Regions from separate parts of the Homo sapiens genome. Here all the other regions are linked to region 3. Evidence: fine-mapped expression QTL. A gene starts in region 3. Each other region holds a variant in brackets. All regions are shown on one strand. Distances are between the middles of the regions.

What was found.
Region 1: its variant is fine-mapped to the expression of LSR in subcutaneous fat (GTEx, PIP above 0.99). The same link has a PIP of 0.9 or more in lung and sigmoid colon.
Region 2: its variant is fine-mapped to the expression of LSR in left ventricle (GTEx, PIP 0.94).
Region 4: its variant is fine-mapped to the expression of LSR in CD4 T cells (BLUEPRINT, PIP 0.95).

What each region holds. Positions count from the first base shown.
Region 1 is chr19:35,224,099-35,232,200 of GRCh38, forward strand. It overlaps FAM187B (family with sequence similarity 187 member B), which reads right to left and starts at 4,641. Exons shown (of 2, transcript NM_152481.2): 1 at 3,861-4,641; 2 at 702-1,114. The coding sequence starts at 4,582. The coding sequence ends at 727. The variant C/T (reference allele first, on the strand shown) is at 4,019.
Region 2 is chr19:35,269,440-35,277,541 of GRCh38, forward strand. It overlaps USF2 (upstream transcription factor 2, c-fos interacting), which reads left to right. Exons shown (of 10, transcript NM_003367.4): 2 at 7-53; 3 at 142-260; 4 at 364-564; 5 at 1,008-1,158; 6 at 1,279-1,366; 7 at 1,644-1,702. Among named protein-coding and RNA genes, the nearest start is that of USF2, 4.5 kb to the left of the region's middle. RefSeq lists silencers at 1-131, 272-591 and an enhancer at 879-1,618. The variant G/A (reference allele first, on the strand shown) is at 4,699.
Region 3 is chr19:35,244,585-35,252,671 of GRCh38, forward strand. LSR (lipolysis stimulated lipoprotein receptor) reads left to right here and starts at 4,418. Exons shown (of 10, transcript NM_205834.4): 1 at 4,418-4,547; 2 at 5,731-6,075. The coding sequence starts at 4,439. RefSeq lists enhancers at 3,002-3,171, 3,305-4,107, 4,108-4,909 and silencers at 4,022-4,101, 4,512-4,581.
Region 4 is chr19:35,470,742-35,478,843 of GRCh38, forward strand. No RefSeq gene overlaps it. Among named protein-coding and RNA genes, the nearest start is that of KRTDAP, 16 kb to the right of the region's middle. RefSeq lists an enhancer at 108-681. The variant A/G (reference allele first, on the strand shown) is at 4,670.

The DNA of each region.
Region 1 (8,102 bases), 20 kb before region 3:
TCTGGGAGAGTTTCATCTCTGTCCAGTCATGGCTTCACTGCACTATTAGGGCAATGAATTTTAATGGCATGAATTATTTTTCACTCTTGCACTCTGCTGAACAGTGTGTGATTTCTGGGAACAGTCAGGCCTGGTGATTCCTGCAGGTCAGCTGAGCCAGGCCTGGCACCTTGTACCAGCAAAAGGGCCTGTCTCCCCTTCCAAGGGCCTGAGGGGCCTCACTCCACCACAAGAGCCTGGAAAAGTGGCGCGTGTCTGGCAGTGCCTCTGACTTGGGGAGTGGTGGCTGGGCCTGAAGGCCTGGGCACAGTGGGGAGGGTGGGCAAGGGATGGGCAGGAAAAGACAGCAGGGCCCAGGGCAGATCTGGGGAGCCTAGAGGTGTCCTGCTCATATCCCCCATCTTGTAGTTGGGGGAATGGGATGAGTGAGGAGGCTATGAGTTACCACCTTTAGGGAGACACCCCAAGAATGGCCTGGTTCCATCTCTCCCTCCTTCTGAAGAACACAGGGCTTGGGACAGGCAACCTGGTTTGAACTAGAATCACCAGCCTCAGTTTCCTCATCTGTTCTATGGAAATTACTAATGAGTTAACAGAGCAGCACCTGACCCAGGGAAGAGCTCGGTCACCCTGGGCTACGGGGCACCGGGGCGGAAGTGACAGAAGGGGCGGCTGTGGCTAAGAGAGAACCGGAGGCCGGGTCCGCTTGTGCACCGGGGGCTCGCTTTATTTCACCACCAGCACCTGTGTGCTTCTCCTGCCCGGGGAAGGGTGGATGCACTTGAGCAGCGCCCCCAGCAGGGCCAGGACGGTGACCACGAGCAGCACCAGCTTCAGCCCCTTGAGCACGGAGTCCGCCCTGCCCCGCAGGGCCTTCCTTGCCTCCCGCCACTGGGCATCGTTCTCTCTCCACTGAGCCTCCAGCGTCTCCAGACTGGCGGCGGGTTTGAACTGGGCCACGAGCTCCTGCTGCACGAAGCACTTGTAGACGGCCGGCTGGAAAACCTGCAGCTGCCTGCCGCCGGTGGAGGGGTCCAGAAAGGTGGTGAAGTCCTGGCCGGAGAGCTGGCTCTCCCACGTCAGGGGGGTGTCGTTGGCACGCCAGTTGACGGGCCTGCGAGGAGGACAAGGTCAGGTGCAGGGCCAGGGAGAAAGGAGGGACCGACGTCTCCCTGAGGAACAGAAAATAAAGCACCGCCCAGTCCCCCTCCTCGCCACCCCCCACGGAGCACTGTGCAGCCGTCAACAGTGGGGTGGAGGAGGCACAGCTGGGGGCTCCCAGGGCTCCACCCGTTACTGGCCCCACCCCTTACTGGCTCCCCTCTTCCTGGCTCCACCCCTTACTGGCCCCACCCCTTACTGGCTGGGTGACCTGGGCAAATGCCTCCAGCTCTTTGAACTTCCATTTCTTTATGTAAAACTAAGAGTCTAGACCAGGCTTGGTGGCTCACACCTGTAATCCCAACACTTTCAGAGGCAAAGGCAAGGAGGATGGCTTGAGCCCAGGAGTTCAGAACCAGCCTGGACAACAAAGCAAGAACCCATGTCTGCAAAAATTTAAAAAATTAGCTGGACATGCTGACATGCGCCTGTGGTCCTGGCTGCTCAGGAGGCTGAGGTGGGAGGATTACTTGAGCCCAGGAGGTTGAGGCTGCAGTGAGCCAGTCACAGCACTGCACTCCAGCCTGGGTGACAGAGCAAGACCCTGTCCCAAAAAAGAAAACAACAAACCAAAAAAAATGGAGAGTAATGATTGTACCTCATAAGGTTATTTGGAGGAGTTAGCAAGGGCACTCCTTAAATGATTTGTCCACCTGCCTTTGCCTGTCTGGTCTCATCTCCTTCACTCTCCCCTTTACTCACTCTGCCTAGCCACGCTGCTCTCCTAGATGTTCCTCTGACATGCTGGGTGCAGTCTTGGCCCTGGCTGTTCCCTCTGTCCCCAGGGCTTCCTCGCCTCCTTTCAGTCTGGGCTGAAATGGCAGCTTCTCAGAGGAGCCTTCCCTGACCCCACCACTTGACACTTTTAACCTCCCCTATTCCCAGCATCCCTTCCTGCTCCGTCACCATCCAAAATACTATAGGTCGGGCACAGTGGCTCAGGTTTGTAATCCCAGCACTTTGGGAGGCCGATGTGGGAGGATCACTTGAGCCCAGGAGTTTGGGCTCAGCCTGGGCAACAAAGTGAGACCTCATCTCTACAAAACTTAAAAACTTAGCCGGGTGTGGTAGTGCATGTCTGTAGTCCCAGCTACTGTGGAGGCTGAGATGGGAGAATCACCTGAGCCCGGGGAATTGAGGCTGCAGTGAGCTGTGATTGTGCCACTGTACTCCAGCCAGGGTGAAAGAGCAAGACCCTGTCTCTAATAATAATAACAATAATAATAATAAAACTATATATTTATGCGCCACAAGGGCAAGAATCTCCGTTGGTTGTGTTCTTCACTGTTTCCCAGGTCCCTAGAATGGAGCTTGGCATATAAATATGCAGTGAACACGTGTTTAGTGGAGAAATGAATCAGGCACCGACACACCCAGCGTGGTGGAAGAACAGAGAGGATATTCCACAGACAATATCATAAAAGCTTGCATTCCCAGCTAGGTACATTGTGGAACTTCTTATTGGATGCTATGGCAGGCACTCTACAGTCTTTAGTCCCCTTAACACATCACAATGACCCTGTGTGGCCAGGGGCTGGCAAGACCTCTGCACTGAGTTAGACAGTGGCCCCCGCAAAATGCATGTCCTTCCCAGAACCTCAGAATGTAACATTATTTGGAAATTGGATCATTGCAGATATAATCAGTTGAGATGAGAGCATATTGGAATAAGGTGGGCCCTCAATCCCATCTGACCGGTGTCCTTTTAAGAAAAGGAAAAGAGAGACAGGGACACAGACACCCAGGAAGAATGCCAAGTGATGATGGAGGCGGGCATTGGAGAGAAGCAGCCACAAGCCAGAGAAGACCGGGATCTCTGACTGCATCCAGAAGCTAGAAAAAAGGAGGATTCTGCCCAGCTCACTCAGAGGGACTGAGAGGGAGCGTGGTTCTACTGACACCTTGATTTCAGACTTACGGCCTCCAGAAGGGTGAGACAATGGATTTCTGGGGTTTTTTTGTTTTTTTGTTTTTTGAGTCAGAGTTGTCTCGTGATGTTGCCCAGGCTGGAGTGCAGTGGTGTGATCTCGGCTCACTGCAACCTCCGCCTCCCGGGTTCAAGTGATTCTCCTGCGTCAGCCTCCTGAGTAGCTGGGATTACAGGCACGTGCCACCATACCTGGCTAATTTTTGTATTTCTAGTAGAGACGGGGTTTCACCATGTTGGCCAGGCTGGTCTCGAACTCCTGACCTCAGGTGATCCACCCACCTCGGCCTCCCAAAGTGCTGGGATTACAGGCATGAGCCACCGCGCCCAGCCTGCATTTCTTATTAAGGGGCAGGTGGACTGGGGGAGAGGAGGGGAAGGGGCTATTTTCCAGAGGCTCCTGGCAGGAAGTAAGAAGATGAGTGTGAGTTCTGGGAGGCAGGCCTTGATGGGAAGCCCCGGGGGCACCAGCCTCTCCTCCAAGGTCTCACTGACCTTTCCAGATGAAGCAGGGGCCTGTTGGAGCCCCTAAGCTTCCTGGGCTTCCCCCATCACAGCCCCATCTGTCTGCCTGGGCTTCTCCCATCCCGGCTCGCACCACCCTGGGCTGTGTCCCCCTCGGACTGTTTAAGAGCAGGGCCTGGCACTGTCCTGATGACCACTACGTGGCTGAACTGCAAAGAACGCCCACTCATCCCTCTGCACATATTACCAGGAAGGATCCCCTGACCGGAAGAATCTGGGTAGGGGCCAGAGGCAGGGATTCCATCACCTGTACATGGATCCTAAGGGACAGTCGAGCCACACAAATTCTGTCTTCTCATCGAGCCTGAAGTTGTCAAAAATGACGTAATCCACCCTTAACTGTGTGTTATTGGTGCACTGGACGTGGCAGGCTTCCACCTGCAGCTCAGGCCGCAAGCGGCTAGA[C/T]CACACCAGCACCTCTCCCAGATAGAGCCAGCAGGGCATGGCTTCCTCCAGAGGCTCCTCAATGTAGCGGTACCCCAGGCGTTTACACTCGCCCGGCTCCTCACAGCGGTTGCAGTCCTGCCAGGGCTCCCACCAGGTAAAAATGAGCTGTTTGCTGCCCAAATGCAGGGTCTCGTTCTGCAGGGGCCTCTGACCCAGGTCCTTGTGTGTTATATGCAGGGTGGTGACATCCTGAAAGTCAATTTCATACTGCACCACTTGGCGGCCATTCTTGTTCCAGCAGTGGTAGAGGCCCGTCTGGGAGGGCAATGGATCTTTAATGAGAAGGCTGCCCTCGGGCATTATTTCCATATTGGAAATATTGGTGAGGCTGGTGAGCCTGCCCTTCTTGCCTTGTGTGAATAAATAGTACCAGTGCGCCCCCGAGGAGTTGCAATACAGGAGAATATCATTGCCTGAGAGTAGGGCCTGTTGGCACTGCTTACCACTGGGGCAGCTGATGGAAAAGTAGAACCCCAGTGCCGGGGCAGCAAAGTGGAGCAGCAGCCACAGCATGGGTGGCATGGTGGACTGGGGCTGTGGCAGTGGGCTGGTGCCACCCCGAACATTGTGAGGTCACCCATGAACTCTGGCCTCAGCCCTGGGCAGTGGGATGAATTGCAGCTACCACATGTGTGTGTGAGGTCACCATCCCCTTTTGTTTTGTGACAAGCTGACAACACTGTTTTTCTTTTTTTTTTTTTTTTCAGACAAGGACTCGCTCTTTTACCCAGGCTGGAAGGCAGTGCTGCAATCACAGCTCACTACAGCCTCAAACTCCTGGAATCAAGTAATCCTCTCACCTCAGCCTGTTGAGTAGCTGGGACTTCAGGTGCATGCTAACCATGCCCAGCTAGTTTAAAATTTTTTCTGTAGAGACGGGGTCTTGTTATGTTGCCCAAGCTGGTCTCGAACTCCTGGCTTCAAGCCATCCTCCCACCTTGGCCTCCCAAAGTGTTGGGATTACAGGCGTGAGCCACTGTGCCCCGCTGACCATATTTAATTTCTATTCCAAGCCCTCCATTTTGCTGGGAAAGGAGCAAACTTAATTTGTCTATTCAGAGTTTTCTCTACTACCTGCCCCGCTTCCTTTCCCAGGGGTGAGACTACATTCCCAGGGATGAAATAAGAGCATGAAGGTGTCACATGTGAACACTCAACACATATTTCCTGAACTCTTACTATGTTCTGGGCACACTTCTTAGCACTGGGGATAAAGCAGTAAACAAATCCTCTCGGGCTGGGCTCGGTGGCTCATGCCTGTAATCCCAGCACTTTTGGGAGGCTGAGGCGGGCGGATCACCTGAGGTCAGGAGTTCAAGACCAGCCTGGCCAACGTGGTGAAACCCCGTCTCTACTAAATAGCTGGGTGTGGTGGCGGGCATCTGTAATCCCAGCTACTCAGGAGGCTGAGGCAGGAGAATCACTTGAACCTGGGAGACGGAGGTTGCAGTGAGCCGAGATCGCACCGCTGCACTCCAGCCTGGGTGACAAGCGTGAAACTCCATCTCAAAAAAAATAATAAAAATTTAAAAAAATTTATCTCTGGTTACTGTTCTGACCTCCTGCACCTTTCCCCCTACTCCCTACCCTCCAACCACGCTGGCCTCCCGCTGTTCCCTGAATCTGTCAGGCAGGCAGAGGGGCTCTTGCCCCAGAACCATTGCACATGCTGGTCCCCGTCTCTTCCCTCAGCCATCTGCATGACTCAATACATCTTCAACAAATATTTTTCTCAGTTGCTCCCTTTCCTTCCATCCCCTTTTCTAAACACCTTCTCAGGCGGTGGCTCACACCTGTAATGCCAGCACTTGCCAGCACTTTGGGTGGCCAAGATGGGAGAATCACTTGAGGTCAGGAATTCGAGGCCAGCCTGGCCAACACGGTGAAGCCCCATCTCTACTAAAAATACAAAAAATTAGCCAGGCATGGTGTCGGGCATCTGTAATCCCAGCTACTCAGGTGGCCGAGGCAGAAGAATAGCTTGAACCCAGGAGGCAGAGGTTGCAGTGAGTGCAGATTGCGCCACTGCACTCCAGCCTGGGTGACAGAGACACTGCCTCAAATAAATAAATAAATAAATAAATAAATTAAATGATCTTCCAGACTTTTCCCAACATAGAAAAAGATGGAAGATTTCTATGAGACTTGCATCACCTTATCTCAAAACCTTATAAGGACATTACAACAAAGAAAAACCTCAGGTCAATCTCTTTTGTCAACACAGACACACTATCCCAAAGAAAATATTGCAAATTGATTCCAGTGATTTTCTTTACACAAGGATAAATATAAAGACCAAATTGGGTTATTTCAGGACGGCAAATTTGGGTTATATTTGCACATCAATTAATGTAATTCACCACATTAACAGAATAAAGGAGAAAAACCATATTATTATCTCAGTAGATACAGAGAATGCATCTGATAAAACTCAACATTCATTTATGGCTCAAAACTTTTGGCAAACTAGGAACAAAAGGAAATTTTCTAAGAAGATAAAGTGTTTCTATTAAAAACCTAGGACAGGCCGGGTACAGTGGCTCACACCTGTAATCCCAGCACTTTGGAAGGCCGAGGCGGGTGGATCACCTGAAGTCAGGAGTTCGAGACCAGTTAGGGTAACATGGCGAAACCCTATCTCTACTAAAAATACAAAAATTAGCCGGGTGTGATGGTGGGTGCCTGTAGTCCCAGCTACTTGGGAGGCTGAGGCAGGAGAATCATTTGAACCCAGGAGGCGAAGGTTGCAGTGAACTGAGATTGCGCCATTGCACTCCAGCCTGGGCAACAGAGTGAGACCCTGTCTCAAAAAAAAAACAAAAAACAAACAAACAAACAAAAACACCTAGGGCTAAATTATACTTCATAGTAAAATACTAAGAATAACACAAGTATTTCTGCCATCAACTTTTCCATTCAGCATTTTACTGGAGGTAAGATACAAGCAAAAAATTAGATATAAGGTCATATATTAAATATGATTTATATACCAGCAACAAAGAATTAAAAGATGAAACTTAAAAGATTACTATAGGATAGTATGAAAAAATTAAATACCTAGGAATAAATATAATAAAAGATATGTGAGTCCTCTACATTAATAACTTCACATTATTGGGAGAAATTAAAGAAAGACTAAACAATGGAAGTATTTGCCACATTCACGGATTGGAAGACTAAATATTGAATATATATTGATTTACCCCAAATTTATCTTTAGATTCAATAAAGTCCCAATTAAAAAAAAATAAGAGTTTTGGGGTGGAAACTACAAACCGATTCCAAAATTTGTATATAATGGGCCAAGAATAACCAAGACAATCTTGAAGAACAAAGTTGGGAAACACTACCACATATTGTGACTTATTGAAAGGTATAAAAAGACACTGTGGGCTGGGTGCAGTGGCTTGTGCCTGTAATCTCAGCACTTGGGAGGCCAAGGAGGGCAGAATCACTTGAGGTCAGGGGTTCAAAACCAGCCTGGCCAACCCCTTCTCTACTAAAAATATAAGAATTAGCCGGGCATGGTTGCGGATGCCTGCAATCCCAGCTACTTGGGAGGCTGAGGCAGGAGAATCGCTTGAATTTGGGAGATGGAGGTTGCAGTAAGCTGAGATTGCGCCATTGCACTTCAGCCTGGGCAACAGAGGGAGACTCCATCTCAAAAATAAATAAACAAATAAAAGGAAAAAAAAAAAAGAAAACCAAAGACACTGTGGCATTGGGACAAGGATGGATAGATAAATTGTATCCAGGGTCCAATCAGGAGACAGAAACATCAGTGTCTACATTGTCATGAGCCCATGGGCCTGAGTAGCTCGGTCTCTAGATTCTACATTTGGCCTCCCCCTGAATATCAGAAGCCTGTGCAGACAAGAACTAGGTCATTGCTGTGTCCCTAACATCACCTGCCCAGGGCACACTCAGAGGAAACACCAGGGAATTCTTCCTGCATGCGCATCTCAGCAAGCCAGTGAGGAGACCTTTTCCTTAGCAGAACCAACATGAAGGCTTATGGGCTGGGAGACGGAGCCCGGTTTTC
Region 2 (8,102 bases), 25 kb after region 3:
TGGCAGCCACGACAAGGGACCCGAGGCGGAGGAGGGCGTCGAGCTGCAGGAAGGTGAGTGCTTGCCGGGCCGGCCGCGCCCGGGGAGGGCTGGGGGCGCTCGGCGCGGCCCTGACCGTGCCCCGACCCTCCTCGGCCCCAGGCGGGGACGGCCCAGGAGCGGAGGAGCAGACAGCGGTGGCCATCACCAGCGTCCAGCAGGCGGCGTTCGGCGACCACAACATCCAGTACCAGTTCCGCACAGAGACAAATGGAGGACAGGTGAGCGGCGGGCCGCGAGGGCGAACGGGCGGGCGGGCGGGCGCGCCGGGAAGGCTCGGACCTGGCCCCAGCGCCGGCCTCGCCGCTCTGCCGCCCCCTGCAGGTGACATACCGCGTAGTCCAGGTGACTGATGGTCAGCTGGACGGCCAGGGCGACACAGCTGGCGCCGTCAGCGTCGTGTCCACCGCTGCCTTCGCGGGGGGGCAGCAGGCTGTGACCCAGGTGGGTGTGGACGGGGCAGCCCAGCGCCCGGGCCCCGCCGCTGCCTCTGTGCCCCCAGGTCCTGCAGCGCCCTTCCCGCTGGTAGGTGCCCTGCCACCCCTGGGTGGGGGGGGGAGGGAGTGGAGAGGGGACACTGGCTCTGCTCTTGGGGAGCCCCGGGGGTGGGGCAGGTGTCGCCCAGCGGATGCTGCCTTCAGGCCTCAGGCTGCATGGGGCCAGATCCCTGTTGTGCACCGTGAAACCTGGGGACAGTGCTCTTGGAATTTTTTTTTCCCGCAAAATGGGAATGATGTGTCTTAAGAGGAAAGTTTCTTAGAGTGCGAAACGGATTTGCTCAGCAAGTGATCGCTGACCTCCCGCCATGTTCCAGGGCTGTTTGAAACACAGGACAGAATGCTACACGCAGAAGGAGTCCCCACTCCTGTTAATTGCAGAGAATGCAGTAAACCCCAAGCACAGCAATGAGGGGACGGGATGGAGGAACAGAGAAAGCTAAGGGTAGCCTCTGCCCTCCTACTCCCCAGGCTGTGATCCAAAATCCCTTCAGCAATGGTGGCAGTCCGGCGGCCGAGGCTGTCAGCGGGGAGGCACGATTTGCCTATTTCCCAGCGTCCAGTGTGGGAGATACTACGGCTGTGTCCGTACAGACCACAGACCAGAGCTTGCAGGCTGGAGGTGAGGAGTAGAAGTCAGATTGGCAGGTGGGGGAGGCAACGGGCCCAGCAGGGAGGGAAGCCCCCCCAGCCAGTTCTGACTTCACCCTGCCTTGCCACTAACCCCCCACTCTCCCTGCAGGCCAGTTCTACGTCATGATGACGCCCCAGGATGTGCTTCAGACAGGAACACAGAGGACGATCGCCCCCCGGACACACCCTTACTCTCCGTATGTGCAGGGGACACCTGGAGGGCCTGGTGTTGAAATGGAAGGAAGAGGGGTTTCTGGAGTAGAAGCTGGGCAGTTAGCATGAAGTGGGCACATGGTGTAATGTTTTTTTTCTTTGCCTGTTTCTGCTGCTCTAGTGCACATAAAGTATCATGTCTTTTGTTTTTGCAGATGGATTTACCTTGCAAAGATAATTTTCAAATCTAATACTTAGCAGATGCTTGGGCAAACAGCTCTGCGATAATACATGCCCCCTTTTTTTTTCCTCCTCTTGTAGAAAAATTGATGGAACCAGAACACCCCGAGATGAGAGGAGAAGAGCCCAGCACAACGAAGGTGAGGACAAGGTGTGGCTCCGGGTCCCCCTGACCACCACCCTCACAGGCTCAGCCAGCCCTGGAGTGTGGAGTGACAGAGAGAGAAGCCACTCCTGGGCAGGCCACAAGTGCTCCAGAGGGCTTTGCTGGACGCTGTAAAGGTAGAAAGTGAGCAACGAGGGGAGAGTACAGTGTCAGAAGTAGAGGGACAGGGAGTGTGAATTGGAACTGGCCATTTGTTGACCCGGCTGGTGATCTTGAATTCATGGCCCACATCTAAGATGGTGGACTTCACACTCCCATACGGATTGCCTGCCCCACTTGAAAAATGGGGCTGACCGGGCTCACGTGGGCTGACCTTTCCACGTGGCAGCTGTCATGCTCACATCCCGCACTCCCATGCCTGCCTGGCCTCCAGAAGTAGGTCTGTTCCCCCAGGGAGCACATCTGAGGGAGAAACTGCATGAAGTTCTGCCTCTGGCTACCTAAGGCCGGAGCATCCTGCCCTTTCCAGAAACACCAGGTCTCACCTCAGGTCATTTGGCCTTCAGCACTGTCCCGCCCCGCCTGTCAGTAGCCACTGCAGTGGGCACAGCACTGTGCAAGTGCCAGGAGAGTGCTTACACCCAAACAACCATCATTCAACAAATATTTACTGCCCGTGGGTTCTGGGCTGAGCGGCACAGGCCCTGTGCCAGGTCTGGAGTCTGGCCTGGAGCGTCAGGGAGGCTCAAAGGCCTGAGGGCTTATGTCTCATGGGTCTCATGGGACATTGATGGGGGGTGGGCTGGGGTGACGCTTCCCTAGGGAGAGGGGAGTGTGGGTCAGGTTACTTTGTGGGGTGCTGGTTTGGTTGTGGGAGAAGTTCCATTTAGAATGCCTCAGGAGGGAAGATCGGGAAGGCCTCGAATGCCCGAGTGAGGGGCTGAATGCTGAGTCCTAAAGGTGGTGATGGGACTGGGGTCTGTGGCCCAGGTAGTTGTGTTCTGAGCAGCTCCTCCCTGAGTTCAGGCGTTCATTCAGCGCGTGCATACTACGACCAGCCCCCCTTTTGCGTCCTCAGATATGGCAATGCAGCAGATGATAGGACAGACAAGGTCTCAGCTCTCTGTGCGCGTTCTGGTGGGAGAGATGGGAGTCACACAGCCGCATCAGGCAGTGCAGGCAGTCACAGGCAGGAGAGGAAAGCTGGGGAAGAAGGTGGCGGGTGATGGCGGCATGGTAGTGTGCTCTGAAGGGCTCTTCGAGAGGTGACATTGAAGCAGATCCCTGAAGCGACCTGAGGGAAGGGGCCTGTTGAGAACCTCAGGAGAGTCCCGGGCAGAGGGAAGAGCTAGAACACAGGCCAGGCCCTGAGCCAGGGCCGCCATGGTGTGTCTGCAGAAGAGCAGAATTCAGGAAAGGAAAGAGGAAGTTGGCGCAGTGGAGGGGGCTGCCCAGGCCAGATGGTGGAGGACCTTGGAAGAAGTCCCCAGTGTGGCTGTCTGGGCTCCTGTGGTTTTATTCCAGGGTGATGAGAAGCCAGCAGAGGGGTTTGGGTTGTGGAGGCTGTTGGCAAGAGTGGTGGGAAGGGGCTGGGAGGTAGGAGACCATACGACTGTCAGGCCTGAGACAGGGCAGGGGTTGGGGGAAATGTGGGGAGGACTCCAAGGCTGGAGAATAAGGGTTTCGTGCTGAACTCCCCTCCATGCTTGGAAGGGAAGGGGTGCATCTGAGCTTGGTTTTGAGATGCAGTGAGTTTGAGGGGCCCCCAGAGCAGCCCCAGCCCCACGACTTACCTGTGGTGGGGCGTCAGGGTGGTTCTTAATCTCCGTACCTGTCTTCCCTCTGTGAAATGGTGGAAGCACAGCCGCCCCGGGCACCTGGTGGGGATGCAGTGAGTCTTGGTGGCCACACAGTAAGGCGAAGAGAGGACTCAGAACCCTCCCACCCCACTCTCACCCCCGCCTCTCCCTTAGTTAATCTGACTCCAGGCAGCCTTGAAACTTTCTCACCCTGTGAAGCAGTCTTCATCACCTGCCCACTTCTCCAGCTCCGTCCTGTCTCCGCTTTCCTGACTTGCAGAGCATCTGCCCCAATCTGCTCATCCTCCCAGTACCCTCAGCCATCTGGCTCATGGCTCTACCAAAACAGCTCCACTTCCGGTCACCCGTGGTGACCCCATTGCCACATCCACTGGCCTCCTTTGCTGTCTGGGCTCCAAGCATCTGATGCTGCCTGTTTCCCTCTGTTCCTTTCTGGAATCTTCCTTTCTCCTCCATCCTCTCTGATTCTCCTGTGATCTTTGCCTTTCCTACCCCACTGTTAACAGTGAAATTTCCAGGGCTGTCCCAGTTCCAAGTGAGTAGATGGGGGTGCCGGGGAATCTGTGTTTTCCATCAGCTCTTCAGGTGATTTGTCATAGTGGACAAGCTTGAGAAACTGCTTTGGCTGCGAGTGTTTCTTTTTTTTTGAGAAGGGGGTCTCACTCTGTCACCCAGGCTGGAGTACAGTGGCACAATCACAGCTCACTGCAGCCTTGACCTCCCAGGCTCAAGCGATCCTCACACCTCAGGCTTCTGAGTGGCTGGGACCACAGGCAGGCGTCATCACATGGGGTAATTTTTTTTTATCTGTAGAGTGGAGGTCTTGCTATGCTGCCCAGGCTCGTCTTGAACTTCTGGCCTCAGGCAGTCCTCCGGCCTCGGCTACAGGCCTGAGCTGCCACACCCAGTCTTGCTGGTGTTTCATAAGGTCCGGCCCCTCCCGTCGGCCTCAGGTGTATGACTTGTGAGGCCCAGCGATGGGCTCGGAAGCTCTTGGTCAGTATCCCCCAAACTCTGTTCCCCCTTGTAGGTGTTCCTCTTTTTTCTTTGCTGCAGAAGAGTGTGTGACTCACAAAAAGTTGAGGACTGTTCCTTGATGTCCTCCCAGGCTTCGCCCACCACCTGGCTCCTGGTAATGCAAGGAACTGTGTTTCCATCCATTCCCTTCCTTTCACTGCAACTCCAGCCCCACGTTTTGAACTACCTATTC[G/A]AGATTTCTGTCTCTGGACATCCCTGTAATGCCTCAAACTCAACTCGCCCAAAAGAGAATGTGCCATCTCCCGTCTCCAAAGGCTTTCATGCAACCTTCTTCTTTGCAGAGCAGCAAAAGCTACCCCTGTCACAGCTGCCCAAGCCAGAAACTAAGACCAGAGCCGCTTTCAACTCTGCCCTCTTCTTCCCTTATGGCCACAAACCCCAAGTTTCTCTTCTGTGGTGATTTCAGATCCGCTTCTCTCACTTCTTTTTCCCTCCTTCCCACCACTTCTTGGTACTGCAGGAGCTTATCCCAGAGTCACAGACTCAAATGCCTGCAGGGGCCTGAGGGAGGGAGGTGCACTTGGCATCTCAGGAAGGGGTGTGTGGCTGGGTGTGGTGGCTCCCGCCCGGAATCCCAGCACTTTTGGGATTACATTTTGGCCAAGACGGACGGATCACTTGAGCCCAGGAGTTTGAGACCATCCTAGGCAATGTGACAAAACCCTGTCTCTACCAAAAAAATTAAAAATTAGCCAGGCCTGGTGGTACATGCCTGTAACAGTCCCAGCTACTTGGGAACCTGTGGTGGGAAGATGGCTTGAGTCCGGGAGACAGAGGTTGCAGTGAGCTGAGATTACCCTCCAGCCTGAGCAACAGACCCAGACCTTGTGTCAGAAAAAGATAGGAAAGGTTGTGGGGGGCCCCCAGTGATCTGGGGCATGTGTGCGCTGCCTGAAGGGTGGCCCTTGCCCAGTGCCTTCCCCTTGCTGCCCTGTCAGAATCTAGGGCCACTGTTGCCAGAAACTCTGAGAAGCTAGAAATCGAGACTTATGTGAAATCTGATTTTTAGGTGCCAGATTAGATTGCTTTTTCCGTTTCATTGATTTCTACTCTTAATGTTACTAATTCATGCTTCTACTCACTTGGTTTTTTGTTTGTTTGTTGTTTTGTTTTGAGATGGAATCTCGCTCTGTCACAGTGGCGCAATCTCAGCTTACTACAACCTCTGCCTCCCCGGTTCAAGTGATTCTCCTGCCTCAGTCTCCCAAGTAGCTGGGACTACAGGTGCCCGCTGCCACACCTAGCTAGTTTTTGTATTTTTGGTAGAGACGGGGTTTCACCATGTTGGCCAGGCTGGTCTCGAACTCCTGGCCTCAGGTTATCCACCTGCCTCAGCCTCCCAAAGTGCTGGGATTACAGGAGTGAGCCACTGCACCCGGCCCCTTCTACTCACTTTGGATTCAATTTGCTAGGTTTCATGCTTTAGCTTCCCTGGCACACCCCAACCCCAGCTTTTTAAGGTAATTCTTTTTTTTTTTTTTTTTCCAATTTTCTACTAAAATCTTTATTTTACAGGATTAATGTTTCACAGCAGGGATTGAGATGATTCTTAACCTTTCTCTTTGCTTAACAACATTTAGAGTTGCCAGTTCACTCCAGCATCACTTTAGCTACATCCCACTGGGATATGTTGTTTTTGTTATCATTCAGTTTAAAGTGTTTTCCAATTTTCCTTGTGATTTCTTCTTTGACCTTTCTGTTATTTGGAGGCAGGTTGCTTAATTTCCAAATATTTGTGGGTTTTTCAGATATCTTTTTGTTATTGATTTTTAATTTAGTTCTGTTATGGTCAGAGAACATACTCTGTATGATTTCAGTTCCTTGAAATTCGATGAGACTTACCCGACGGGCCCGAATGTGTCCTAGCTTGGCGGAAGCTTCTGGGGCATTGACGAGGACAGGTGTCTGCTGCTGTCAGGCAGAATGTCCCCCCAGGTCAGTGAGGTCAGGCTGGTTGAGTGTTCAGGCTTTCTATTCTGATTTTTGTTGTTGTTGTTTACTTGTTCCACCAATCAATGAGAAAGATGTCCATGTCTCTCACTATATTTGTGGATTTGTCCATTTCTTCCTTCAGTCCTGGCAGGTTTCGCTTCTGAATTTTCTCTTTTTTTTTTTTTTTTTTTTGAGACAGAGTCTCGCTCTGTCACCCAAGCTGGTGTGCAATGATGTGGTCTCGGCTCACTACAACCTCCACCTCTTGGGTTCAAGCAATTCTCGTGCTTCAGCCTCCCAAGTCGCTGGGATTATAGGCATGCACTGCTATGCCTGGCTAATTTTTGCATTTTTAGTAGAGCCGGGGTTTCGCCATGTTGGCCAGGCTGGTCTCAAACTCCTGGCCTCATGTGATCCACCCTCCCAAAGTGCTGGGATTACAGGCGTGAGCCACCCCACCCAGCTTCTGAATTTTAAGTTTCCTATGGAGTAACTGAAGTGCTTCTGTGGAATGAACGTGGCCTTGGTCCTAATGGGTCTTCCTGTATTTCAAATGTGCCATGATGGTCTTCCGAAGCCACAGGCTGGACAGCATTACCGCCTGCTAATGTCAGGGCCTGGATTCAAGGGCCTGGGACTCTGGAGGAGGAGGAGATGCGGTCCTGACCTGCGAGCAGAGCACACAAGGCCTTGACAACCGATCTTTACAACCTTTTCCCACCCCTGCATACCCTGAAATGGTTTTCAGGCCACCATTTCTGGGATCTTCCCAGCTGCCTGCCTTAGAGTCTTTCTCTCAGAAACCAGCCCGAATGTTTCCTGGATCTCTGAGGATTCATCCCACCCCCATTCCCATGCAGAGGCCATGGCTCGGCGCCTGGCGTTCCCGAGGCACTTTGTACCATCTTCAGTGATGACACGAATGCAATGGGGTTAGTGCCACTTGCCCACAGTGGTGCTGCGAGTGCCCATGGGGCGCACCGGGGCTGCTTCCACCCTGGACCCCAGCCTGGCGGAGGGCCTGGCACATAGTAGGGCGGGGAGTAGGTGTGTAAGAAGTAAGCTTGCTCTGGAGAGGATGTACCTGCAGCCGGCGCCCAGCTCTCGAGAGGACTGTGGGAGGGCAGAGGCTGAAACGAGGCCGCCTGCCGAGTTCCTCCACAGACCCCTGGGCGAGGAGCGCTCTGCTGGGGACTGCGCCAGCGGTGCCTCCAGGCCTGGACTCTCAGCTCCGCTGCTGCTTTTGGCCAGAGTTCCCAAAGGCGGGTGTGGTTGTCTTTGGTGGGAAGGTTCAGCGCACCGCGATAGTAATAGGGGAGCAAGCACTCGCTGAGCCCAGTGCAGGGCCTGGACCGTGCTCCATAGCAAGCACTGATCTTGGGCTATTGGTTTTGGAGGAAAGAGGGAGCACAAGGATGGAAGGGGCCAGGGAAGAGAGGTCACGGTGGGAGAAGGAGAGTCCGCATCCATCGGAGGGTTTGTCACTCAGGCCTGAGTGGGAGGCACTGGAGGCAGGGAGAGGCCAGTCAGCAGCATGCGGCCACAGCCCAGAGAAGCCAGAGGGGTTTGCTGGTGGGTGGGCCCCAGCCTTTTCAAGGGAACGGCAGGTCTGGGGAGCTGCCGATCTCGGGGTGTGAGGGTAAC
Region 3 (8,087 bases):
CACACACATGATCATCTGAATTAATACAGAAAAGGTATTTGACAAAATTCAACACACCTTCATGATTAAAAAAAAAAAAACAGAAAACTAATCATACAGGGAAAATTCCTCAATGTGATAAAGGGTATTTATGAAAAACTCACAGCTATCATCATACTCAATGGTGAAAGATTGAAAGCTTTCCCCCTAAGATCAGGAGTAAGACAAAGATGGCCATTTTCACCATGGCTATTGAACACTGTATTGGAAGTTCCACCCAGAGCTATCAGACAGAAAAAGGAAATAAAAGTCATTCAGATTGGAAAGAAAGCAGTAAAACTATCTCTATTCACAGATGACACGATCTATGTATAGAAAATCCAAAAGAATTCACAAGACAGCTACTACAGTTAATAAACAAGTTGCAGGGTACCAGATCAACACACAAAAATCAGTCATGTTTCTATGCACCAGCACTGAACAATCCGAAGAGGAAATTGAGAAAACAATTTCATTTACAACAGCATCTAAAACAATTAAATACTTAGGAATAAATCTAACCAATGAGGTGAAAGACTTGTACACTGAAAATGACAAAAGATTGCTAAAATAAGGCCTGGCACGGTGGCTCAAGCCTGTAATCCCAGCACTTTGGAAGGCCGAGGCGGGCGGATCACGAGGTCAGGAGATCGAGACCATCCTGGCTAACACGATGAAACCCCATCTCTACTAAAACTACAAAAAATTAGCCGGGCGTGGTGGTGGGCGCCTGTAGTCCCAGCTACTCAGGAGGCTGAGGCAGGAGAATGGCGTGAACCTGGGAGGCGGAGCTTGCAGTGAGCTGAGATTGGGCCACTGCACTCCAGCCTGGGTGACAGAGCAAGACTCAGTCTCAAAAAAAAAAAAAAAAAAAAAAAAAGATTGATAAAATAAATTAACAAGTATCTAAATAAATGGCATAAATGGCAAGATGTGTTCATGGATAGAAAGACTTAACATTAAAAATGTCAATACTACCCAAAACAATCTACAGATTCAACACAATGCTGATCAAAATTCCAACGTCTTTTCCCAAAGAAATGGAAGCAGATCCTCAAATTCATATGGAGTTTTAAGGGGCCCCCAATAACCAAAACAATACTGAAAGAGAAGAATAAAGTTAGAGGACTCACACTTTCCATCTGTGAACTTACTACAGAGCTATAGTAATTAAAACATATGGTACTTGCATAAGGATAGGCGTATAGATCAATGAAATAGAATACAGAACCGAGAAACAAACCCTCACATATATGATTAATTGATTTTTGACAAGGAAGCCAAGACCACTTAATGGGAAAAGGACAGTGTTTTCAACAAATGGTAGAGGGAAAACTGAATATCCATATGCAAAAAAATGAAGTTGGACCCTTCTACCACATACTAAAATTAAAATGGCCCAGGCCGGGTGCAGTGGCTCACACCTATGTGAGCACTTTGGGAAGCCAAGGCAGGTAGATTACTTGAGGTCAGGAGTTCGAGACCAGCCTGGCCAACATGGTGAAACCCCATCTCTTCTAAAAATACAAAAATTAACCCAGTGTGGTGGCATGCACCTGTAATCCCAAATACTCGGGAGGCTGAGGCATGAGAATCGGTTGAACCCGGCAGGTGGAGGTTGCAGTAAGCGGAGATCACACCACTGCACTCCAACCTGGGCGACAAAGTGAGACTCAGTCTCAAAAAATAAAATGAAATAAAATAAAGTGGCTCAAAGACTCAATTTAAGAGTTAAAACTATAAAACTCTTAGAAGAAAATATTGTTGAAAATCTTCATCACATTGGACTTGGCAACAACTGCATAAATAGGATACCAAAAGTACAAGGAAGAAAAAATAGTAGGTAAATTGAACTTCATCAAATTAAGAACTTTTGTGCACCAAAGGACACTATCAAGAAAGTGAAAAAACCTGGAGAATGGAAGAAAATATTTGCAGATCATATATCTAACAAGGGATTAATATTCAAAATATATATAGAACTCCTACAACTTGACAACAAAAAAACAAACAACCCAATTCAAAAATGGGCAAAGTACTTGAATAGACACTTCTCCAAAGAAGATATACTAATGGACAATAAATTCGTGGAAATATGCTCAACATCGTTAGTCATTGGGGAAATGCAGATTACAACCACAATGAGATGCCACTTCACACTAACCAGGATGGCCATAATCAAGAAAATGGATAATAAGTTTTGGTGGGGATGTGGAGAAATTGGAATCCTCCGTGCATTGCTGGTGGGAATGTACAATAGTGCAGTCATTGGGGAAAACAGTTTGGCAGTTCCTCAAAAGGTTAAAAATAGAACTACCAAGTCACCCAGCAATTCCATTCTTAGGCATATATTCAAAAGAAATGAAAGCAGATATTTGTACACCAGTGTTCACAGCTGCACTATTTACAATAGTCAAAAGGTAGAAACAACCTAGGTCCATCCACAAATGAATGGATAAATAAAACGTAGCATATACATACAATGGTACACTAGTCCGCTGTAAAAAGAAATTTTGATCTTACTGCATGCTACATGGCTTCGACATACTACAACATGGATGGACCTTGAAAACATTATTCTTTGTGAAATAAACTAGACACAGGACAAATGTTAGACGATTCCACTTATATGAGGCACCTAGAATGGGCAATTTGGTAAGCAAAGTAGAATAGAAATTACTAGGGGCACAGGTAGCAGGGAATGGGGAGTTACTGTTTAATGGTCACAGAGTTTATGTTGGGGATGATGAAACAGTTTCGGGGATAAAGAGTGGTGATTGGTACACGACATTGTGAATATACTTAATGCCACTGAATTTTACACTTGAAGTGGTTAAAGCGATAAATATTATAGTTTGCATATTTTATCATAAAAATATTTTTTTAAACGATGAAGGGACGTGAACGGGTTGAAATTTTATAAAAAGTGGCCAGGGAAGGTGTCACTGCAATGGTGTCCTACAGGAGGAGGAAGATCATGTGGACATCTGCGGGAAGGGTGTTCTGGCAGAGGGAGTAGCACGGGCGATGGCTCTGAGGACTGTGAGAAGTATAGTTGGAAACAGCGAGGAGGCCAGGGTGTCCGAAGCTGAGTAAGCCAGAGAGAGTGGGAGGAGGTGAGATAAGAGGGGGAAGGTCAGTTTCTGCTGAGAGTGAGGAGGAGCCACAGGAGGGCTGTGAGCAGGTGGACGTGATCTGGCTTGAGTTTTAACAGGGCCAGTAGAACAAAGCACGCCTGGGTACCGAAACCAGCCACTGGCCAGTTGGCAACCTGGGGGAGTCTAACGCGAGGAAGCGCCCAGGGTTCCCCCAGGATGCGCTTTCCCTCGCCGCCACCTGGAGACAGCAGAGTCACGCCCAGCGCTGCGCAGGCTGATCGCCGCGCCGCGCCCCCGCCCTCGGTCGCAGGTGGCTCGTTCCGGGAATTCCTAAGCGGAAACCGGTCCCAAGCCCCGCGCCTTCGCTCGGCCCCTTTAAGAGCCAGAATTTCCGGAGGGCTGACCCGGGGGCTAGGGATGCCCAGGGGCCGAACCACAAGTTGGGAACGGGTGGGGGAGGTGGCGAAAACTTCCGAAGTGGAATTCCAACTTTTCCTGGCCCTGATTCCCCTTGGGCATCCCTGAGGGGGCAGAGCTTCCCTTCCGGGGACTTTAGAGGGTTCCTCAGGTCATCTAACTGGGAGACACAGGAGGCCCGAAGCGCCCCCCCTCCACCCGGTCCGGAGGAACCCCAGTGGAAGTGGAGAAGTCAGGCGCCACCAACAAGCCTCTCCCAGCCAGGACTTTGCTTAGACTCGCTCCTCCCGGCAGGGCGCACCTAGGCGGGTCCATCGCCAGCCGGGGAGAGGGGTTTGGGCAGGGAGGGAACAGGTGCGCGGCGGGACCCGCCCTATCTCAACAGGTGAATCGCTCCAAGTGGGTCTCGGTTGCATGGATCTCGGTGCGCTTGGTTTGGCCGGAGCAGATGGGGGCCGGAAGGGACCTGTGGTCCGCAGGCGCCCTCCCAGCGGGCCAGTCACTTGGTTCGGGCCCTGGGGGACGGAGCGCACCTGGGTCAGCCCACTTCCGGGGAGGGAGGCAGAGGAACCCCTCCCCGCCGCTCACCCCTAAGCCCAGCCCTCGGCTCCCACCCTTGTGTACCTGGGCCGAACCATTCACCGGAGCGCGCAGCGGGTGGAGTGTGGCTCGGAGGACCGCGGCGGGTCAAGCACCTTTCTCCCCCATATCTGAAAGCATGCCCTTTGTCCACGTCGTTTACGCTCATTAAAACTTCCAGAATGCAACAGGACGGACTTGGAGTAGGGACAAGGAACGGAAGTGGGAAGGGGAGGAGCGTGCACCCCTCCTGGCCTTGGTGCGCGCCGCGCCCCCTAAGGTACTTTGGAAGGGACGCGCGGGCCAGACGCGCCCAGACGGCCGCGATGGCGCTGTTGGCCGGCGGGCTCTCCAGAGGGCTGGGCTCCCACCCGGCCGCCGCAGGCCGGGACGCGGTCGTCTTCGTGTGGCTTCTGCTTAGCACCTGGTGCACAGGTACGGGGCACGGGGCCTCTGACGCTGCGGAACGCCGGAGGGAACTGTAGAGGGGGATGGATGGAGTTGGAGGCGGCGGGAAGCGGGAAGCGGGGGTCTCAGAGGCTGGGACCTTCCGATCCCCTGGGTCTTGGGCGATCTGTTGCGCGCGGGAGTGAGAGGAATTCCCCATTTGTGCCGGGGAGCGCTCCCCGCGCCCTTATCTGGAAGATAGCAGGAAGTGAAACTCCCTGGACGGTGAGACCCGGAGCGGCAGGGAGAATGGAACTCTTTGTGGGGAGGGAGTGGAAGACCGCCCGATCTCTGGGAAAAGAAAAGCCGGGATGGGACTTGGGCGCACCCGGGGATTTCTAAGTTTTGGAGTAACGGGGAGAGGGCACGGGAGGGCTGGATCAGACGCTTCCTAGAGGGACAGAGACGAAGGAACAATGCCTAGGCCTCGGGTGGGTGTGGGACTGGGGACTCCCCATCCCCCGCACCCCACCCACCTCCCGCGGGCTCCGGATTATACGTGCGTAAGAGTCTGGTGGGATGGATTTACGGACTTGAAACCGACTTCTGCTGGCAGGCTTTCACCTGGATGGGATATTTGGGTGGTGATGAGGTCTTTCCCGAGACACTTTTGGTTCAGTCATTTGAAATGACTTTAGAGTAGGGTGAGGTGGTGGGAGGCTGATGGAGATATTGTGGGGGCTTTAGTCCCTCCATGGCAAAGCAGTTCAGGCAAACAACTCCATGGTTTTCCCTCCAAATTCAAAAGGCCCCGGGTAACCTGGAATCCTTCGTAGTCGGTTTTGAAGTGGGGCCTTGGGCGCTGGGGGCATCAACATGGCCATCTGGGCTTGCCTGCCCAGGCCACACAGAGGCCCCTTGTTGTGGGTGAATGGCAAAGGGAAGAGGGGACTGGTGTGGTTCAGAGGCCACAGGCTGGGAAGAGGGATGGCGGGCGAGTCCAAGGAAACTGGCCGTGTCACCGTGCACCTGCCACTTCAGCCCCACGGGTCTATAAAATGGGCATGATTATCGTGGCTACCTCACTGGTCCTGGCAATTAAGGAACAATGTGTGCCAGGCACTCTGTAAACCACATACTTGCGAGTGTCAAGCTGGTGACAGGTGGCGTTCCTGTTGAAGCACCTCCCTGAGCTCACAGCAACCCTTGCTGTCTCTCCTCTTGCCCTCAGCTCCTGCCAGGGCCATCCAGGTGACCGTGTCCAACCCCTACCACGTGGTGATCCTCTTCCAGCCTGTGACCCTGCCCTGTACCTACCAGATGACCTCGACCCCCACGCAACCCATCGTCATCTGGAAGTACAAGTCTTTCTGCCGGGACCGCATCGCCGATGCCTTCTCCCCGGCCAGCGTCGACAACCAGCTCAATGCCCAGCTGGCAGCCGGGAACCCAGGCTACAACCCCTACGTTGAGTGCCAGGACAGCGTGCGCACCGTCAGGGTCGTGGCCACCAAGCAGGGCAACGCTGTGACCCTGGGAGATTACTACCAGGGCCGGAGGATTACCATCACCGGAAGTATGTTGGGCAGGGCAGGGGGATGAGGCTGGGCTTGCCCGGGTGGTGGGACTGGCGTCCTTGTGCGGGACCTGGAGTCCCCATCTGAAAGCTCTTGAGTGCCAGTGTCTGAAAGGACCATTGAAGGGAGCAATTCTTTTTTTTTTTTTTTTTGAAGATGGAGTCTTGCTCTGGACTCCAGGCTGGAGTGCAGTGGTGCGATCTCAGCTCACTGCAACCTCCACCTCCCAGGTTCAAGCAATTCTCTTGCCTCAGCCTCCCGAGTAGCTGGGACTCCAGGTGCGTGCCACCACGCCCAGTTAATTTTTGTATTTTTAGTAGAGATGGGGTTTCACCATGTTGGCCAGGCTGGTCTCAAACTCCTGACCTCAAATGATCTGCCCGCCTTGGCCTCGCAAAGTGCTGAGAGACACCATACCCAGCCTAAAGGGAGCGATTCTATTCTACTATTCTTCCTTCTGCTAATCCTTCCATTCTTTAATTTAATAACGAAGATTTTTTGAGTACCTGTCATATACCAGGTGCTGTTCTGGGCCCTGGGAATACAGCTGTTAACAAAATCATCAAACCACTTCCCTCGTGGAGCCCACATTGCAGTGAGAGAGACAAACACGACACACACTCTCAAGTCCTTGAAGATAAAGAAAACTGGGTAACGGAGAGAAGAGGCCAGGGTTTGTTCTATAATCATTAATAACACGAGCAGTAAGAAGTAAAATTTATCTAAGTAACAACTTATAAAGGGTCTACTGTGTGCTAAGCTCTCATCCAGGTTCCCAAGGATTAACTCAGACCACACAGTAATTGAATAGATTCTATCATTGTCATCTTACAGAGGCCCAGAGAGAGAAAGTGACTTGCCTAGTGTCATAGCTGGTAACGGGGCTGGGATTCTAACTCAGCCACTTTGGGTCTAGTGGCCAAGCTCCTAATCCCTTTGCTTGCCTAGGGTGGTCCGCAGAGGACTCACAGAGGAGATGGCAGGAGTGAACTGCAGGGGCAAGAGAGCTTAATGGAGAAAGCCTGTGACATGCCAGGAACTGCACACATATTCTCCCATTGAGTCCTCTCCTCTACCCTCCTGACAGCTGAGGCACAGAGAGGTTACCTTGTTCAAATGGGTGCATAGGAAGTCAAAGTCTGGAGCTGGGGTTTGAACCCAGGCAGCCCTGAGAACCTTGTTCTTTTTTTTTGAGACGGAGTCTCGCTCTGTCGCCCAGGCTGGAGTGCAGTGGCGGGATCTCGGCTCACTGCAAGCTCCGCCTCCCGGGTTCACGCCATTCTCCTGCCTCAGCCTCCCAAGTAGCTGGGACTACAGGCGCCCGCCACTACGCCCGGCTAATTTTTTGTATTTTTAGTAGAGACGGGGTTTCACCGTTTTAGCCGGGATGGTCTCGATCTCCTGACCTCGTGATCCGCCCGCCTCGGCCTCCCAAAGTGCTGGGATTACAGGCGTGAGCCACCGCGCCCGGCCCCTTGTTCTTAACTGTAATGCTGCCTCCTGATAGGATGTGCCTGTTGGGACTAAGTAAGGGGCAGTCATTCATTCATTCATTTGGTATTTATCAAGCATCGACTATGTGTCGTTGGTGCTGGGGATAGAGGTGATTGGGATGGCTGAAGTTTCTGTCGTCAAGGAGATGACATTCTGGTGGAGTGAGACTGGCAGTAAATAAGCAGATAAAGAAAGAGTATGAGAATTTCAAAGTCTGGGCACGGTGGCTCACGTCTGTAATCTCAGCACTTTGGGAGGCCAAGGTGGGTGGATCACCTGAGGTCAGGAGTTCCAGACCAGCCTGGCCAACATGGTGAAACCCCGTCTCTACTAAAAATACAAAGATTAGCCAGGCATGGTGGCACATGCCTGTAATCCCAGCTACTCAGGAGGCTGAGGCATGAGAATCGCTTGAACCCAGGAGGCAGAGGTTGCAGTGAGCTGAGATCGCACCACTGTACTGCAGTCTGGGCGACAGAGTGAGACTCTGTCTCAAAAAAAAAAAAAAAAAAAAAGA
Region 4 (8,102 bases), 230 kb after region 3:
TGTTTACATTTTTCCCATGAGCATATATTATTTCATAATAAACACATAAAGCCTGGTTTTAAGTTGATTCTGCTGAGGACTAAGCTCTGATTTTTTATCCTGCCCAAATTCCTATCTAAGGGGCCCAGAGAATCGTGCCCTAAAAACCATAAATTCTCATCAGTTGGGTTTTATTTAACCCTATATATCGTGACTTACTTTCCAGTCTTACTGTGGCATAACGTTACTTGATAAAGAAGAAAGTCAAAATATTTTACTCCAAAATCATATTTTGAAGTGGCCCTGCAAAGCTGTCCTTTGTGGGGAAAATTTGCATCTGTAAAGAATCTCTATCAACATAGCTAGATCTTTTTCTTCCAGGCCCTCCCAATCCTGAAGAGATTAACTAAGAGTCTAGCACCTTTTAAAGATCTGAATAGGAAACATTTGTCATCTATTGTCTCTAAGGGCAGCCACTGTAAGACTTCAAAAGAACCTTGGTCTCCACAATCTTTTAACCTGAACATATCCTTTCTGTCAATCCCAGGTCTTTAGACAAACTCAATCAATTGTCAACCAGCAAATGTTTAAATTTACCTATAGCCTGGAAGCCCTGCCCCACTTTGAATTGTCCCATCTTTCTGGACCAAACCAATTAATTTCTTAAATGTATTTGAGGCCAGGCATTGTGGCTCACGCCTGTAATCCCAGCACTTTGCGAGGCCAAGGCGGGCAGATCACGAGGTCAGGAGATTGAGATCATCCTGGCTAACATGGCAAAACCCCGTCTCTACTAAAAATACAAAAAAAAAAAATTAGCCAGGTGTGGTGGCGGGCGCCTGTAGTCCCAACTATTCGGGACGCTGGGGCAGGAGAATGGCGTGAACCTAGGAGGCGAGGCTTGCAGTGAGCCGAGATCGCGCCACTGCACTCCAGCCCGGGGGACAGAGCGAGACTCCGTCTCAAAAGAAAAAAAAAATGTATTTGATTGATGTTTCATGCCTACCTAAAATTATAAAACCAAGCTGCACCCTGACCACCTTGGGCAAATGTTCTCAGGACCTCCTGGGGGCTGTGTCACGGGGCCATGGTCACTCATAATAAATCTCTTCAAAATATTTTACAGTTTGACTCTTTTCATCAACACTGTTCACCAAACATACACAGAGAAGAAAACTCAAATTACTCTAGCGTTTAGGTCCTGTTAACTGACCAACTACTGTGAGCTACACTGAGGGCTAAGCACTTCACGTCCAGGACGTCACTGAATCCTCACAACTGGGTCTGGAGGGAGGGTATTTTCATTAACTCCCTTCACAGAGGAGGACCCTGAGGCTCAGGAATGTGAAGTGACCTCCCTAAGGTCACATAACAACTTAGGAACTCAACTTAGGCCTGACTGGTTCCTGAGCCCATGCGTGTAGCTACATCAGTATGTTAGCGGCGCAGGAATGATGACAATGATAATAACAGCAGTTTACGTGCTTGCTATGTGGCAGCCCTGTGCATTTCATGTATAATCTCATCACATCTCCATGGCAATCCCCGTTTTACAGAAGAGGAAACTGAGCGTCAGCAGAGAGAAGTCACTTGTTTGCCCAGGGTCATCCAGCAGAATTGAGACTAGAACCCAAACCACCGGCATCCATCCAGTGGCTCAGGCCAAAATCTCAGTAGCCATCCTTGACTCCTCCTTCTTCTTCCTCCATATCTAATCCATTGGTTCTAGTTGGCTTCAGTTTTCAAAATACATGTTCACTTCTCACTATCTGACTACTGCAGGCCCCATGGAAGCCACCGCCGTCTCTCTTCCAGGCCAGTTTGAAAGACTTCCTACTGAACGCCCTCCCTCCATTCCTGCCTCTTGCCCCCACCCCATCCACTCTCTACATTGCAGTCAGAGTGATCTTTTTCAACTCTTTTGCTAAATATCTCTCCTGCAACCTTTCTTAGGGTTTTGGGAGACAATTAAGCTCTGCAGAGAATGGTTTGAGTGATTGTTTTCTTGATTTTCCCAAGGATGCTACTAGCTAATACCATTACTTACTACAGTAGGAGATAACTTAATTCATTACATGCAATGGATGCCTTAGAGTCTTAGGGCTTAAGTCTACCGGGAACTGGGTGGAGACAGCTGCAAAAGTTTCCTGTCACATTTCAAATACCAGTGACCATGGCCTACAAGGCCCCTGTGACCTGCCACCCACCACACCTTGACCTCTGCAGGTACATTTCCAACTACCCTTTTCCCAAGCACAAGACCTCTTCTCCCTACCTCAATCATAGAAGTCTCATTGCTGCCTTAGAGCTTTTGCAGGGGTTGTTCCCACAACCTTGAGCCCTGCCCAAGCCATCCAGAGCCTGCTCCTTTTGTCAGTCATTCAGGGCTCAGTTCAAAGACCACCAGCTCAGAGGGGCCCTCTCGGCCACCTGAATTAAATGCTGCCAATTCCTGCTGTTTTATTTCCTTTATGGCACTTATTTATCATAATCTGAAAGTACCTTTGCTTGTTCACTCAACTGTTGTGTGTCTCCCAAGTTAAGGCTGAGCTCCATGGGGCAGAAACCTTTTCACAGGGAAGCAATCTGTAAAAATATGTTTAGAGAATCCATCAGATATCTATTATGAGCCAGTCACTGGGTTAGGAGCTTTGCAATGAATCCTTTTTATCAACCCCAACATTGTCCAATAGATATACAATATAAGCCAAGGCCAGGCACAGTGGCTCATGCCTGTAATCCCAGCAATTTGGGAGGTTGAGGCAAGAATGACCCTTGAGGTCACCAGTTCGAGATCAGCCTGGACAACATAGCAAGACTCTGTCTCTACAAAAATTAAAAGGGGCCGGGGGTGGTGGCTCACGCCTGTAATCCCAGCAATCTGGGAGGCCAAAGCAGGTGGATCACCTGAAGTCAGGAGTTTGAGACCAGCCTGACCAACATGGTGAAACCCCATCTTTACTAAAAATACAAACATTAGCTGGGCGTGGTGGCTGGCGCTCGTAATCTCAGCTACTCAGGAGGCTGAGACAGGAGAATCACTTGAACCCAGGAGGTGGAGGTTACAGTGAGCAGAGATGGTACCATTGCACTCCAGCCTGGGTGTCAAGAGCGAAACTCTGTCTCAAAAAAATAAAAAAAAATAAAATAACTTTAAAAAATTAAAAGAAAGAAATGTAATGTAAGCTATTTTTTAAAAAATCCAAGCCTCTTGGATTCAAGCGATTCTCCTGCCTCAGCCTCCCGAGTAGCTCCAGGCACCATTTAAAAATTTTTAATTGTCTAATAATCAAATTAAAAGAAGTAAAAAGAAACAGACGAAATTAATATATTTTATTTAAACCAACATGTTCAGAGGATTATCATCCCAACATGTAATTGGTTAATAAAGATATGAATAGATGACAGATGGATGGATTGGGGTGTGTATGTGTGCATGTGAGCTCCTCCTCTATACCTTTTCTGGGTTCTGAGAAGCTCAGCGGCTTCGTCGCTATTCGGGGACTCACGGGCTTGCCCTTCAAGACCCAGCCTCAAAGCCCCAGACACTGCATCTCTGCTTTCCCGCCTTTTCTGTACCTGTCTCCATGTGGTGCTCCCTTCAGGGCCTGCACACAGGGAAGGGAGGGCCGTCCTCCCGCGAGGCCTCAAGGTGCCTATCGGTGCAGTGGCTCAAACAAAACAGGTGTGACAAAAGGCCAGGAATGCCTCCCAGGGGCTGAGGCACCTCAGGGAGCGTGTTAGAAGAAGTGGACGGTAAAAAGAGAGCGTCCGGGCCAGGAGCGGTGGCTCATGCCTGTAATCCCAACACTTTGGGAGGCCGAGGTGAGTGGATCACTTGAGGTCAGGAGTTCGAGACCAGCCTGACCAACATGGAAAAACCCTGTCTCTACTAAAAATACAAAATTAGCCGGGCATGGTGGTGCATGCCTGTAATCCCAGCTACTCAGGAGGCTGAGGCAGGAGAATCGCTTGAACCCGGGAGTTGAGATTGCACCATTGCACTCCAGCCTGGGCAACAAGAGTGAAATTCCATCTCAAAAAAAAAAAAGAGCGTCCAGAACCAGGACGCATGCGCACATTAGCCCCGACTGGAAGTGCATGAGGACAGAAGGGAAGCAGAAGTTGGGGCTGAGGTGTTCCTGCTGAGAAGAGTGATGGATGTAAATTTTGAAGCTCTGGATCCTGCCCACACCATGGAGCCAAGAGGACCAGAGGAGTCAGCATTGAACTGGAAATCAAGTTGGAACTGAAAATTGACTTATCCACAAATAGTAAGAACTGTGAATTTGGGCCTCAAGGAGAGGAAATTTTATTCCTAGGCAGGGTCTTCTTGGGAAGGCAGCCGGACAAGGCTTCTCTGAAGTCCAGTAAGGTTTTGGGAGGTTTCATTGAGAAACTGAATACTGAGAATGAAATGCTGAGAAATGAACAGATGCAACAGCAAAATTTTTTCCAAAAATTGTGCTGTGTTCTAAATATTTACATTGAATGAATGATACAAAAATATACTCAGGTCAATACAGTTGTGCAGATGATCGGATTTATAAGAAATAACGAGGTGACCTGTTAATGAGAGATAATTTTTTTTTTTTTGAGATGGCGTCTTGCTCTGTCGCCCACACTGGAGTGTAGTGGCACGATCTCGGCTCACTGCAACCTCCGCCTCTTGGATTCAAGCGATTCTCCT[A/G]TCTCAGCCTCCTGAGTAGCTCCAGGCACGTGCCACCATGCCGAGCTAATTTTTGTGTTTTTAGTAGAGACAGGGTTTCCTCATGTTGGCCAGGCTGGTGTCGAACTCCTGACCTCAGGTGATCCACCCACCTCGGCCTCCCGAAGTGCTGGCATTACAGGTGCGAGCCACTGCACCTGGCCAATGAGACACAGTTTTTAAGTTGTACAGTGAATGACACTTCGTGGTCCCAATCCAGTTAGCCTACCTCTGTGACTCTGAAAAATCTCATCTCGAGATAACTTAAGGAGTGAAAATTGAAAGTCTTCCTAGTTTCTGCCCCTATTGGAGAGGGGCCCCAGATGTTCTGTTAGGAATTAGTAAGCAGGATGACCCTGAGAATAAGCCACAAGAGGAATCTGTGATAACTGGACGTCCTGAGAGATTTTCTCATCAGATCACCAGTGCTGGAGGGACATCCAGGCTCCATCCCTGATGCTACATTGGGAATGAGTGATGAGGGGTGCTCTGTATGGGGAGTGAGGTTTTTCATAATGTGCGAGGGTTTCTGGCTAGAACAACAAATAAAACAAGATTACGTTGAATAATCAGACTGGCAAGGCCTCTTGGAGGAGGTGTCATTGCCACAGAGACCTGGATGAAGTGAGGGAGCAAGGGAAGAAGGGAATGAGTCATGCAGGCAGAGGGAACGTGGCCTTTTGAAGAGCCCTTGAGGAGGCTGGAATGGGGTGCAGAGGGCTGGAGCAAAGTGATCAAGATGGGAGGGGGAGGTAGGAGATGAAGCCCATAGTAAAATCTATGGGGTTTTATTACGAAGTAATGGGAAATCATGGGAGGGTAGAGAGTAGAGAATAGAGGGAGAGCATGAACTGATTTAACATAAAAAGGGCTTTCGGGGAGGGGTGATAGAGGCTCAGTAGGAGGCTAAATACAAAAGCGGTCACTTGCTGTAGGGGGCGCTAAGGAGCATTACCTCAGGTCACCAGCCTGGGAAGTAGACTCAGGTGCAGGTGAGGGAAATGAGGCATCTTTCCATGGGAGAGCCATGGGGATTTTTGTTTGTTTGGGTTGTCATTGATTTAGGGGAGGAGAACCCAGGAATGTTGTGGTCAGTTGGTCTGTTGGGTGTCAGAAAATGTAGTGGGAGGTCTTAATGGGATGATAGTCATCAAGGGCGGGGTGCTGTGTTCATTTCTCAGGAGCATCTGAGGCCATTTCACCCTGTTGAAGTTCTCGGGCCGCCTCCACAGTGCCGCCATTGTTGGGGTTTGTAATGAAGTAAATCAGGCTCTCAGGAGGGACTATGTTTAGGAGGTAACATGAAGAGCACCCCGTCAGCCACCAGAATTCTCAACCTTGTCCCTCACAGCTGAATGGCTTTGGACAGATTGAAGTTAAGGTGTCTTTATTGTGGTTGCCTTAAAATATTATGTTAGGCTGGGCATGGTGGCTCACTACTATAATCCCAACACTTTGGAAGGCTGAGGCAGGAGGATGAGTTGAGCCCAGGAGTTCAGGACCAGCCTGGACAACATAGTGAGACCCCATCTCTACAAAAAATTTTAAAAATTAGTCAGGCGTGTTGGCATGCACTTGAAGTCCCAGCTACACAGAAGGCTGAGGCAGGAGGATTGCTTGAGCCCAGGAGGTCGAAGCTACAGTGAGCTATGTTTGTGTCACTGCACTCTGGCCTGAGTGACAGTGTGAGATTCAGTGTCAAAAATAAATAAAATAAAATGTTATGCTATGAAGTATTTCAAACACACATAAAGATATGAGAAACCATATTAACAAACTCCTGTGTACACATTCCTCAATTGTTTTTTTTTTTTAATTATTTAAGACGGAGCCTTGCTCTGTTGCCCAGACTGGAGTGCAGTGGTGTAATCTCGGCTCACTGAAACCTCCGCCTCCTGGGTTCACACCATTCTCCTACATTAGCCTCCTGAGTAGCTGAGATTACAGACACATGCCACCACGCCTGGCTAATTTTTGTATTTTTAGTAGAGATAGGGTTTTACCATGTTGGTCAGGCTGGTCTTGAACTCCTGACCTCTTGGTCTGCCCACCTCAGCCTCCCAAAGTGCTGGGATTTCAGATGTGAGCCACCACACCCGGACTGCGCTCTTATTTTATTGCTGGACAGCTACCATTCCACCATGTGGTCCACCCTATTTTACACATCCATTGTTTTTTTTTTTTGAGACAGAGTCTCGCTCTATCGCCCAGGCTGGAGTTCAGTAGCATGATCTTGGCTCTCAGCTCACTGCAACCTCCACCGGGTTCAAGCGATTCTCCTGCCTCAGCCTCCTGAGTAGCTGCGATTACAGGTGCCTGCCACTACACCCAGCTAATTTTTTGTATTTTTAGTAGACACAGGGTTTCACTATGTTGGCCAGGCTGGTCTTGGACACCTGACCTCGTGATCCACCTGCCTCAGCCTCCCAAAGTGCTGGGATTACAGGCATGAGCCACCATGCCCACCCCTGCCCCTCCCCCCCGCTTTTTTTTTTTTTTTTTAAGCCAGGGTCTGGTTCAGACTGGAGTGTAGTGTTGCCATCATAGCTCACTGTAGCCTTGAACTCCTTGGGCTAAGTGATCCTCTCACCTCAGCCTCCCAAGTAGCTGGGGCTACAAGCATGCACCACCATGCCTGGCTAATTTTTTCATGATTTTTTGGAGAAACAGGGGTCTCACTATCTTGCAGAGGCTGGTCTTGAACTCTTGGCCTCAAATGATCCACCTGCCTTGGCCTCCCAAAGCACTAGGATTATAGATGTGAACCACTGCACCCAGCCAACACAAGAAACTAAAATAGTTAAAAATTCTAGGGCTCTGAAATCTAATAGAACCTGAGTTGAAAGCCTGGCTCTGCTATTTCTTCTGTGGGTGCTCTTAGGAAAGTCACTTCATCTTTATGGGCCTCAGTTTCCTCATCTGTCAGAAGAGAGCAAGTGAATACAGTTGCAAATATTATTTCTCTAAGTATGACTCTATCTGAGTCATTATCTAAGTGGAGTTTTATAGCATAATAATAACAGCTACCTTTTATTAACATGAAAAAATCTAGGCTAACATTTACTGAGGTTTTCTAAACCCTTGTGAAGTATTGCTATTATTCCCACTTTACAAATGATGAAACTTTGGCCCTGACAGAGTAGCCACCCAGAGGTCACGTAGCTAGTAAAGTGGTAGGAACAGAATTTGAAATCAGGTCTGACTGATTTTATAACTCATATTCTAACCGCTAAGTTGTACCACCTTAAATGCCTCCAGCGGATACTTAGCAGTGGTTTCCAAACATTTTTTAAGGAATGGAAACATTTTTTTTTTCAAGCAAAGTCTTAAATGAAACAGTAGGTTATAAAGCAAGTGAAGGCCAAATTACACCAGTTAAAGCAGGGATAATGCAGGTACGGGTTCAATCCTGGCT